Regions from separate parts of the Homo sapiens genome. Here region 2 is linked to region 1. Evidence: fine-mapped expression QTL. Tissue or cell type: whole blood. Region 1 holds a variant in brackets; the other region holds the start of a gene. All regions are shown on one strand. Distances are between the middles of the regions.

Evidence for each region. PIP is the estimated chance that this variant, and not a neighbour inherited with it, causes the effect.
Region 2: USP13 starts here. The variant in region 1 is fine-mapped to the expression of USP13 in whole blood (TOPMed, PIP above 0.99).

The regions. Positions count from the first base shown.
Region 1 is chr3:179,597,987-179,604,171 of GRCh38, forward strand. It overlaps MRPL47 (mitochondrial ribosomal protein L47), which reads right to left. Exons shown (of 7, transcript NM_020409.3): 2 at 4,666-4,811; 3 at 3,744-3,804; 4 at 689-785. Among named protein-coding and RNA genes, the nearest start is that of MRPL47, 3.6 kb to the right of the region's middle. RefSeq lists an enhancer at 5,942-6,185. The variant C/A (reference allele first, on the strand shown) is at 3,881.
Region 2 is chr3:179,650,239-179,656,423 of GRCh38, forward strand. It overlaps USP13 (ubiquitin specific peptidase 13), which reads left to right and starts at 2,802. Exons shown (of 21, transcript NM_003940.3): 1 at 2,802-3,155. The coding sequence starts at 2,988. It also overlaps the pseudogene H3P13. RefSeq lists silencers at 2,534-2,613, 2,624-2,963 and an enhancer at 2,632-3,275.

The DNA.
Region 1 (6,185 bases):
GAACTACAAATGTAAAGTGGTATAGCTACTTTAGAATACAGTTTGGCGGTTTCTTAAAATGCTAAATATAGATTTATCATATAAGCCAGCAATTTCACTCCTAGGTATCTACTCAAAAACATTTGTCCACATGTATGTTAGAAGTTGCAGGTAGGTTTGGGAAGCCAAGGTGAGTAGGTCACTTGAGGTTAAGAGTTTGAGACCAGCATGGCCAACATGGTGAAACCACATTTATACCAAAGATACAAAAATTAACTTGGCATGGTGGTATGTGCCTGTAATCCCAGCAACTTGGGAGGCTGAGGCAGGAGAATTGCTTGATCCTGGGAGGTGGAGGTTGCAGTGAGCCAAGATATCACACCACTGCACTCCAGCCTGGGGGCGACAGAGTGAGACCCACCTGACACACTGACACACACACACACACACACACACACACAAACAAAAAAAAAAAAACAAAAAACACGTTGCAGGTAGAAATGAGGAATGACTGCAGGTGAGTATGAGATTTCTTTTAGGGGCGATGGAAATGTTTCCAAAGGAGCTATGATGGTTGCACTACTCAAATTTACTAAAAATCAAACGAATAAGAAAAAAAAATCTATTTGACAAGAAATACAGGAACCACATACTCACTCCTTTTAGCTGTAATCATGTATACCAGTCTCCAGCCTCTCCCAATCCTTACCTTATCTAACCGCTCTGGACTTGGCATTGGCAATCTCTGCCGCTTGGCCTCCTGCTCTAGGGTTAGAAGCATGTTTCTTTCTTTCAGTAAGACATACCTATACAAAAGAACACAAACCTTGTGATGCTATTCTGTGGTTATGTTAATAAAGTTGTGATTTCTGACATCAAAATTAATTATCTGTACTTGAAAGTCACTTAGAGGCGAGGTGCTGTGGCTCACACCTGTAATCCCAGCACTTTGGGAGGCTGAGGTAGGAGGATCGCTTGACCTTGGGAGTTCAATACCAGCCTGGGCAACACAGCTAGAAAAAATAAACATCACTACAAAAAATAAAAAATATAATTAGCCGGGCATGGCAGCACACACCTGTAGCCCCGGCTGTTTGGGAGACTAAGGCAGGAGGATTGCTTGAGCCTAGGAATTTGAGGCTATAGTGGGCTAAGATCACACTACTATACTCCAGCCTGGGGATAAAGTGAGATCTTGCTTCAAAAAAAAAAAAAAGACATATTAGAAATCTCAATATATAGAATATGATTACAAAGAATAATCCATTATACATAAACTATCTTTGCTTATCCATGTGTTCAATAAACCTTCCATTTGCCACATGTATTAAGTGCTAAGAGAGCTACAAAGAGGCATAAAACATAGTCCTTACATTCTGAGTGGAGAGTAGAGAAGGCAGATGGAAGATAAATAACATTTACTGAGTACCTATTATATGCCAGACAATGTGTTAAACATTTTATATACACTTATTTCATCTAGTTTTCACAACCACCTTCTGAGGTTGGTATTATTTCCACTTACTTAACGAAGAAGCTAAGGCTGAGAGAAGTAAGGTATTCTGGGTCATACAGGTAATTCAAGATTCAAATCCCTGATCTCTGTGTATAAAATCCATTCTATTTTAACTCCACCACGCTGCTTCTGAAACTGTAATGTGATGTGGGATAATAAGTGGGACAGGCAATAAGTACCAGAAGAATTAAGTGGGGGAGATGAGAAACATCTCTTCTAGCTAAGATGACCAGGGAAAGAGTCATAGAGATGGAATTTATGATAGAAGGGAGAGCAGAGCAAACATAATCAAAGGTACTGAAGCAGCAGAGCTAAAGTGAAGGCAGATTTTCTGAATACATCTATTTGGGAATACGAGTTGGGGCCAAGTGCAGTGGCTCACACCTGTAATCCCAGCACTTTCAGAGGCCGAGGCAGGTGGATCACTTGAGGTCAGGAGTTCGAGACCAGCCTGGCCAACATGGTGAAACCCCGTCTCTACTAAAATACAAAAATTAGCTGGGCATGGTGGTGCGTGCCTGTAATCCCAGCTACTCAGGAGGCTGAGGCAGGAGAACCTGGAATGGAAGGCGGAGGTTGCAGTGGGCTGAGATCGTGCCATTGCACTCCGGCCTGGGCGACAAAGCGAGACTTTGTCTCAAAAAAAAAAAAACAAAAAAGAGAAATGGCATAACTTTAGTTGGTTGCAGCCATGATGAATGTTGAAATAGCCTTAACTATCCTTTCACTGATAACCCACAGTAACTAATAGTGCTTTAATACAACTTATTTTTCTATAATGAATAAACATAGTATCAGTGGTTTTCATAAACACTTCACAATTCTTTAATTTGTCATGAAAGATAAACAATGCTTTACATCAACAAACATAAATGTTGGCTGGGCACGGTGGCTCATGCCTATAATCCCAGCACTTTGCGAGGCCAAGGCAGGCGGATCACTTGAGGTCAGGAATTCAAGACTAGCCTGGCCAATGTGGTGAAACCCCATCTCTACTAAAAATACAAAAATTTAGCTGGGCATGGCAGCATGAGCCTATAATCCCAGCTACTTGAGAGGCTGAGGCATGAGAATTGCTTGAACCTGGGAGGTGGAGGTTGCAGTGAGCCAAGATCACGCCACTGAATTGCAGCCTGGGTGACAGAGTGAGACTGTGTCTCAAAAAGATAAAATAAAAAAAAGCAAATGTCTACTAGAGTCCCTAGGCAGATAACAATTATGAAGGAAGTAGACATAGTGAAAGAACCACAGGGTGGCCGAGAAGTGGTGTGTCCCTGCTCCATCTAGAAGGGGCAGTTGCTCCACACACCAGCCAAGTTGTTGCCATGTAGGAATGCAGGGCCGGTGTTGCCAAATCACAGGTCTCATTATTCAAGAGCCGACAAAAATAATATTTTCTGTGTGAAACTTCCCAATTTAAAAAACAATTACAGTCCAAACAAAACATATCTTTGGGCTACATATAGTACATTAAAAATGCAACCCTGTCTTAAATCCTCTCAACCCTAATTCATCAGAGCCTGCCAGAAAAATCTACCTAAATTCTCAATTAAATGCATCCTCCAACACACCTTTCCAAAGCAAATACACTAAAGATTACAGATCATGAAAATGTAATAAAAAGGAGAGAATTTTAAATATAACCAATGGCTGGGCACAGTGGCTCATGCCTGTAATCCCAGGATGTTGGGAGGCTGAGGTAGGAGGATCACTTGAGCCCCAGTGAGAGCAGCCTGGGTAACATAGGGAGACTCCCTCTCCATAAAACGCAAAAAAATTAGCTGGGTGTGGTGGTGCATACCTGTGGTCCCAGATACTCAGGAGGCTGAGGTGGGGGATCACTTGAGCCCAGGAGGTCAAGGCTGCAGTAAGCCGTTACTGTACCACTGCACTCCAGCCTGGGCAACAGAGCGAGACCTTGTCTCAAAGAAAAAAACAAAAGCCACCAACTATTCTCTGTTTCATTTTATTAATTAACTGAAATTGCTAGTATAAACATGTTAGTAGGACCAATGTAAATTACAGTAAAATTTCTGAATTCCCAACTACTTGAGAATTGTGACATTTGTCATAATCTAACCTCTGTCATATAAAATCTTTCATGATCTTAAACATCAGATTTATCATCCATAGTACTACAAAAGAAATCGCTTTACTCAATTTCTTATATCAGATAGATTGTTTTCACCTCATTGTTACACTATAACGGCTTCAAACGTCTAGATGTTAATGTACTTAGTATACTTACCAAAGTTTGTGTAAATCTTCATTACTTTTGTTCCTTAGTTGCTGACAGGTCCATGCTGCTCCTATTAAAATAATACATAACATGAAATAACATTTCTAGCCATGTGCCCTTTGGCAAATTATTTAAGCTCTCTAAAC[C/A]TGTCTAAACCTGTTTCTTTATCTGTAAAATATATAACAGCTTTTTTATAGTATATAACAATGTGTAATTAGAGATAAATTAGGTAACATACGAAAATACTATTAACATGACTGGCAATAGCATTCAAAAAATGTTAGCATTAGTACAGAACGTATTTTCACACCCTAATGACAAAATACTTTGTCATTATAAATTAACTGGGGCGGTGGTTCACACCTGTATTCCCAACGCTTTGGGAGGCCAAGACGGCGGGCATCACCTGAGTTTGGGAGTTCAAGACCAGCCTAACCAAGATGGCGAAATCCTGTCTCTACTTAAAATACAAAATTAGCCGGGCGTGGTGGCACGTGCCTGTAATCCCAGCTACTCAGGAGGCTGAGGCAGGAGAATCACTGGAATCCGAGAGGCAGAGGCTGCGGTGAGCTGAGATTGTGCCACTGCACCCCAGTCTGGGCAACAAGAGCAAAACTCCATCTCTAAATAAATAAACAAACTTTAAATTATCATTAAAAAATAAAATCTAAAATAAGCCCTAAACCTTACTTTAGTTAATAATTTCAGCCTATTCCTTATCTAACCATCTTGCCAATCTGCCAAGGAACAATTAACTCTACTATTATATTGTCCCTTTAATTTTCTCTAGTAGACAGTCTCAAAGAAAACTGAAAAAGGAAACATCTAAATAATTCCTAAACTGGATATATAATCCTAGAACGATGGTTGGGCGGGGCGGGGGGGGGGGTTCCATAAATATATCTAATGTTGACAAATCCAAGTATCTCACCAGATTTTACTTTTTCTTGCCCCCAGTTTTTTGGGTCATCAAAAAATTCTTCTAGTCCTTTCCTTGACAATGTGGTATGAAGTAATCTATATTGGTGAAAGGATGTCACATTTGGTGTACTCTTAGGCAACAAACTAAGAAAAAACCTGCAATTGAACACACATAAACAAGTAAAAGTTTTATAATATCTGGATTTTATAAGCAATAAACATTATCATAATAAACATAATCATTTTGTCATCGATAACATTTTAAAAAGCTACTCAGGGTTTCTGCACAAGAATTAATTTTTTTTTCTTATTTAGAGACTGGGTCTCACTATGTTGTCCAGGCTGGTCTCGAACTCCTGGGCTCAAGTGATCCTCCCACCTTGGCCTCCCAAAGTGCTGGAATTACAGGGATGAGCCACCATGCTTGGCCACAATAAATTTTGAAAATGCTTTAGAAAGTATTGTTAATACTGCATTATAGAAGCTGCTACCTTATAATTTCAGAGGTAACATAGTTACACAATTATATTTTAAGGTAACATTTTTGGGTCCTTCTTACATTGCTAATGGGTGCAAGCGCAGGTAAAAAGAGCAGTCAATTTTGCAACATGTGGGCTGGGCACGGTGGCTCACACCTGTTATCCCAGAAATTTGGAAGGCCGAGGTGGGAGGATCACTTTGAGCCCAGGAGCTCAAGACCAGCCTGGGCAAGATGGCAAAACCTCATCTTTAACAAAAATACAAAAATTAGCCAGGCATAGTAGCACGTGCCTTATAGTCCCAACTACTCGGGAGGCTGAGGTGGGAGGACGCTTTGAGCCTGGGAGGCAGAGGTTTCAGTGAGCTGAGATCACACCATTGCACTCCAGCCTGGGCGACAGAGTCAGTCCCTGTCTCAAAAAACAAAAACAAAAAAACCTCACAATTTTGCAACATGTATCAGGAGCCTCAAATACTTCCTCCTTTAATTCAGTAATTCTGCATCTAGAAGTTTCAACTGAAAAAATTATTATAGATGGGAATTTATAAATTAAGATGTTTATTAAAGCACTATATAGGATGTCAAGTTTTTAATTATGTAAATACGCAGCTAAGAATGGTTTAAAAATTACTGTGCATCTGGATGATAAATTATTATGCAGTAATTCAAAAATCCTGTTTTTAAAAAATAGTTAACGACCTGAGATGATTTGAAACTAAATAATGAAGTTTATCACAAGTGTTGTATCCCTACCAAAAATATTTAGCCTAAATCTTATAATGAGGAAACAATCAGACAAATCCAAATGAATAAGATTCTTAAAAAGCTAATCTCATCAAAATGTCAACAACATTAAGAAAAAAAAAAAAAAGAAATTGTTCCGGATAGAGACTAAAGAGTCATGGCAACCAATGTAATAAATGGATACTTCACTGGATCCAGGACCAAGAAAAATAAATAAATAAAAGAAGTTACTAAGTTACCAGTTACTTTCATTGTAACACATCCTGTAAATACAAATATCTCTTCTTTTTTAATCCATCCAAACT
Region 2 (6,185 bases), 52 kb after region 1:
AGCGTGGCGAGTGACAGGCGGCGCTGGTGTTGGAGAGCGATGGCTGAGTTTTAATTAACTTTTAAAGCAATACTTGAGGCCGGGCGCGGTGGCTCACGCCTGTAATCCCAGCACTTTGGGAGGCCGAGGTGGGAGACCAGACTGGCCAACGTGACGAAACCCCGTCTCTACAAAAAAAAAAAAAAAAAAACAACAAAAAATTAGCCTGGCGTGGTGGCGTGCATCTGTGGTCCCAGCTACTTGGAAGGCTGAGGCGGGAGAATCGCTTCAACCCAGGAGGCGGAGGTTGCAGTGAGCTGAGAGCGCGCCATTGCAGTCCAGCCTGGGCGACAGAGGGAGACTCCATCTCCAAAAAGAAAGGGGGGGAAAAAGCAATACTTGCACATAATACAAATGGAATCATACAGAAAGCTACAAAGTGGTAGTGTAGTAATCTGTTTTCACGCTGCTGACAAAGACATACCTGAGACCGGGCAATTTACAAAAGAAAGTTTTATTGGACTTACAGTTCCATGTGGCTGGGGAGGCTTCACAATCATGGTGGAAGGTGAAAGGCACGTCTCAGATGGAGGCAGACAACTGGAGAGAGCTTGTGCAGGGAGACTCACGTTTGTAAAACCATCAGCTCTTGTGAGACTTATTCACTATCACAAGAACAGCACGAGAAAGACCTGCCCCCATGATTCAATTACCACCTACTGGGTCTCTCCCACAACACGTGGGAATTCAAGATGAGATTTGGGTGGGGACACAGCCCTACCATACCAGGTAGTAAGTTCTCCCTTAACCTCAGGCTTTCAGTTCTTCTCCACAGAGCCTGACTAGTTTCTTGTGTATTGCTCTAGAGACATCCTAAAGCCAAACAAGTGGGCATGCATACACATATGTATATTTTAAGGGGCTACATTAAAAATATTTACTACAAGTACAACCAACTGGAATGAAGGCCCATGGTATATAGGATGTGCCAAAATGCCTACTGCATATTATCAGCCTTGCATGTATTCCTTGCTTTTATACACTAGTTTGCTTAAATTGCTTTTATCATCTAGTAATAATTTGGAGATTGTTCCACATCAGCACACGTAGAGCAACTTCATTCTTTTCAATGGTACTGTATTTTAACCACTTTCTACAGAAGGATCTTTAGGTTTTCCCCAGACGTTTGTTACTCGAAACAGTGCTCTAACAAATATCTTTACACAGCCTTAATTTATCTGTTGCATAAATGTCTAGACAAGGAAATGCTGGGGAAAACAGTATGCACATATAAAGTTATGACTGGTATTATTACATTTCCTTCCAAAGAGGTTTATCGTTTTTATCCCCACCAACAATGTAATGAGGGTCTACTTCCCAAACCCATGCTAACTCAATATATCTTTACCAGCCCAAAGGATGAAAAACAGTGTCTCACTGATTTAATTTGTATTTAATCTAAGATTAAATTTTAAGTTTTGTAAAACCAAGTTTATCTCTGTAATTGGAGAAAACATCATCCATTAACGTGAAAGGTAATAAGCTGATGAGACTAAATTCAAAGCAAAAGCTCGCTGAGAGGATCTGCCCAATGAGGAAGATGACAGTAGTGTCTGATTTTTTGCTCAGTGCCACCTCCTCCTTTTCCAACAGATAGCATTTGGGAGTGCTGAGTTATAAGAAAGTGTGGTGCGCTCGAGGCTTGCTTGAGGGTATGGAAATCTTGAGATAGGTCTGGAGAACCAGGGAGAGTTAAAAGAGAAAAAAAGTAAGAAAAAAAAAAGAACTTAAGGACTATCTGATCTGAGAGAGGCTTACAAAAATTAGCGTTTTGGTTCACTATTTCTCGCTATTTCTGCATTTCATTAACTGGCAGGGATCACTGGATACTCTGTCATGAATACATATGTTGGGTGTAGTTAGAGAACCTCAATGTCATTGAACCCGTCTTGTGGGTTTTTTGGAGAGAATGAGAGTATGCTGGGAGACATGCTCTGCTTGCAAATGATCAACCCCCGAGGCCAACCCCATTCATCATTTATTTTGAGGAACTGATGATCAAGACAGGAATATGTATGCCTGCCTACAAAATCCTCAAATCAGGCCACTGAATGTTCGACATGAGAACTTTGAATCACATAGAAGATACTCCAAAGGCAGAGAAAAATAGAAAGCCTTCCGACGCCCTGAAAAAATCTTGACCATCCCTGACTTCCCCCAATATGTAAGAAAACCTGTATTATTATTACACACACACTCCCACACACACCCCGCCCTCCCCCACACACACACCCTCTATCCTCACTCGATCTTATTCTATTCGCTCTATTTTTGAGCCTTGGATGTTAAAGTAAGGAACGAAGCTTAGTGGGGAAGCACTGAAGTGCATGGCGCAAATTTAGATTTAAGCCTCACGTTAGATTTCAGATTTGCACATCGAGTCCCGCCCCTATCCAATCCGGGGACGTCACCGCCCTAGTCTTCGGCTGTTTTAAAAGCAAGCGGTTTTTAAAACCCCCAATCCTGCTCTTTGTGTTGGCCTCCTCGGAGTTGCCCCTCTGCAAGCCAACAATTCGGGATAGAAAACACCTCCGTGGTGTTTTCCCGGGGCCCTCCCGCGCCGCGTTCGGCCGCCAGCCCGCTCGAGCTCCCGCGCCAACGCCTCAGGGGTTCGCCCTCCGCCCCCCGCCGCCGCGCCCGGCCCACGCGCAGGGCCCCTCTCCAGCGCCCCCTCCCCGGCACGCTGCGGCTGGCGCTCCCCAGCCCCGCCTGACGCTGCAGCTGGGCCGGAGACTCGCCATTGGATTAAAAATAGCGTCGCCAGTCCGCCCCAAGCCCGCGGTGCCCGCTCCCGCCCCGCAGCCCGCTCTCCCCGCCCGCCCCGGCTCGGCCGGCTGCCGTTGCCCGCGCAGCCCGCCCGTCAGCCCGCTCGCTGGCGCCGCCGCCGCCGGCAGACCCCGCGCTCCGGCTCCGGCTCGGCTCGCTCGGCTCCGGTGCGCGCCGAGGCCATGCAGCGCCGGGGCGCCCTGTTCGGCATGCCGGGCGGCAGCGGAGGCAGGAAGATGGCTGCAGGAGACATCGGCGAGCTGCTAGTGCCCCACATGCCCACGATCCGCGTGCCCAGGTCCGGCGACAGGGTCTACAAGAACGAGTGCGCCTTCTCCTACGACTCTCCCGTAAGTGAGGCGCCTCGGGGGAGGGTCGCGGGGCCGGCGGCCTGCGGCACGTGAAGCCGGGGGAGAAGATGCGCAGTGGCGGCCGGGACCTCTTCTCTTCCTCCGGGCGGCAGAGTTGGCTCAGGAACACTGCAGTTCGGCAGACACTTAGTGAGCGCCCCAGGGCTGCTGCAGCCGAGGACTGGCTCGTGCTGGTGGTTTTGCTCCGCCAGCCTCCCCAGGCTGGAAGGGCCCGATTCCCAGCAGCTTGCACACAGCCCCGCCGCCGTTTAAAGATAGATGAAATACAAGAGTTCCCTGTTCCGAACTGCACGTTGCAGATCGTTTGCGTCCTCCGCGGGGCAGAGCGCAGGGCGGGTAGGTGGACGGGATGATCCCCCCACACCCCGGGACACACACAGCCCTTCTTTTTCTGGGACCACTTGCTTTGCTCAGGGATCCCCACTTCTGGACAATTCTGATTTGCTCTCTGAGCTTTTCTTCCACCAGTTCCCATTTCACCCCACTCCTTTTCTTGTCTTTAGAATGTCAGGGCCAGGCGCGGTGGCTCACGTCTGAAATCCTAGCACTTTTTAAGAGGCGGAGGCGGGCGGATCGTTTGAGGTCAGGAGTTCGAGACCAGCCTGGCTAATATGGCGAAACCCCATCTCTACTAAAAAAGAACCCCAAAATTAGCCGGGCGCGGTGGCGGGAGCCTGTAGTCCCAGCTACTCGGGAGGCTGAGGCTTGAGAATCGCTTGAACCGGGAAGGAGGAGGCTGTAGTGGGCCGAGATCGCGCCACTGCCCTCCAGCCTGGGCGACAGAGCGAGACTCCGTCTCAAAAAAAAAAAAAAAAAAATGTCAGACGAAACCTTCCGGTGCCTCCACTCGGGCAGCAGAAATAGGGGATCTACTGGATTGCGATGGTTTTCTTAAGCCTTCCCCACCTTGCCCTTCTAAATGAGTCACTTGGACTGACATGCGCAAGTATAAATTATTAAAAGTTCAATCCCGAGTCGTGACCTCGGAGAATGAGGAGGAAGCTGAGAGGGATCGCCGCCTTCCACCCGGGGCGGTTGGTGGTGGTTTTCACCTGGTTCTATGTGAATGTGTGAGAAGCAGCAGGAGGGTGAATGTCCCTTTCAAAAGTCAAAATGGGCTTCAAAGTGACTCAGCTGTCTGGCGTTTATCATGTCTTTTTGAGGACCAGGTTATTTTTATCCACCCACTTTAGATCTCATATGTCACCCGGCAGATCTCAATGCATTGGGAGGCGCATGGATTGGATGGACCGAGGCAGGTCTCGCAATGGTCTAATGTATTTTATTCATAGCATGTGGACTATTGTCAGAGGGGAAAAGAAAAGTCCAAATGAGCGGCAACATTTCCAAAGTTTCCTTTATTATCTGTGGGTTGATTTTGGCTGGCTTCAAAGCACTTTTGCTCGACACACACTGGAGTATCAGAGTTAGTATCCTCTCTGTGACATTTAGTTTTTTTATTTATGGTAACTCCATATCATTTGAGGGATGAAACCTAACTTAATTTTTGATTGTTTACTTTTTTTTTCTTTCGAAAAGATCCACAGAGTGGAGTGTGACAATCGGCAGTCCTTTTTTAGGATGTTATCCATAAATTATTTGAAAATGCCATTTTCAGATTGTATGGCCAGTGTTGGGCAGTTCCCACTAATAGCTTCTAAAGGTGGAGAGGGATGATGGTCCTAACTTAAGCAATTGACAGATTGTTACCTCCAGGAAGAAGAAAGTGGCCTAAGTTTTTTAGGATAGCACAACATGGAAAGTGGGTCAAATGACTTTCCCCATGTTTTGATTTGGGCTCTTCTTCAAGTTCTGCTTACAAACTTTGCTCTTGGAAGTTTTTGCTGCATAATGCAGTGGATAACAGGTGTGGGAAAAAAGGCTGATTGTTTTAATTCATTTCCACAAATAGTTATTGGGAGCTTACTGTGTGTGTTTCTAGAATGTTACTATTCTAGAAACATCTCGTCCAGTGTAGACTGATGATTGCAATCATATCACAGCAGTTCCTTAGGGGAGACTGGGATTATTTACAAGGCTGATGAATCAGTATATTTCATTATCTATGTTTCAGGGGAGGAAGGGAAGGTTTGATAATATTTATCTTAAAGCACAGTGCGTGATAATGGGAAGGTTTTTTTTGTTTTGTTTTGTTTTTTTTTTGAGTTTTGCTCTTGTTGCCCAGGCTGGAGTGCAATGGCACAATCTCAGCTCACTGCAACCTCTGCCTCCTGGATTCAAGTGATTCTCCTGCCTCAGCCTGCCAAGTAGCTGGGATTACAGGCGTGTGCCACCACACCTGGCTAGTTTTGTATTTTTAGTAGAGGTGGGTTTCGCCATGTTGGTTAGGCTGCTCTCGAACTCCTGACCTCAAGTGATCCACTCACCTTGGCCTCCCAAAGTGCCAGGATTACAGGCGTGAGCCACTGCACCCAGCCAGTATTTTGTTATGGTATGTAACACTATACTATGAATCCAATAAGGGATTCTTCAGCACCTACTATGTGCCATCTCATACATGCATGACTGTAAGGAGCATAAAGAGCAAAATCCATTGGTGCTAAACACGCCAGAAACTTTAATCCACAAGTGCCACGGGATGTCTTAGGGAAAAGGCCAAAACCAGCTGAGTGGAAAAAAGAAATCATCCCTGCATTGGTTACTGTTGAAAAAGGTTATGTACAAAGATGGCTAGAAAATAAGGGAGATCAACATTCAAGGCCAGGGAAATTATATGTGCAAAGAAGATACAACGTGTGAATATTTCCCACTAATTTGCCTGTAATGTATTTGGAATAAAAAGATACATTTGGCAAGTAGCAAGAAGTGAGGTAGAACCAAGTAGAGAGTAGATGATGGGGGCCTTGAATCTGGAAAACATTTGATCTTGATTTTATATGGTCAGTTATGGAAAGCTATTCTTGGTCATGTGATTTAAAGTGGTGTTGGAGGAAGATTGTGAATCAACAAATTCACAGTGTACCTACCATGTCTAAGGCACTGTCTGTA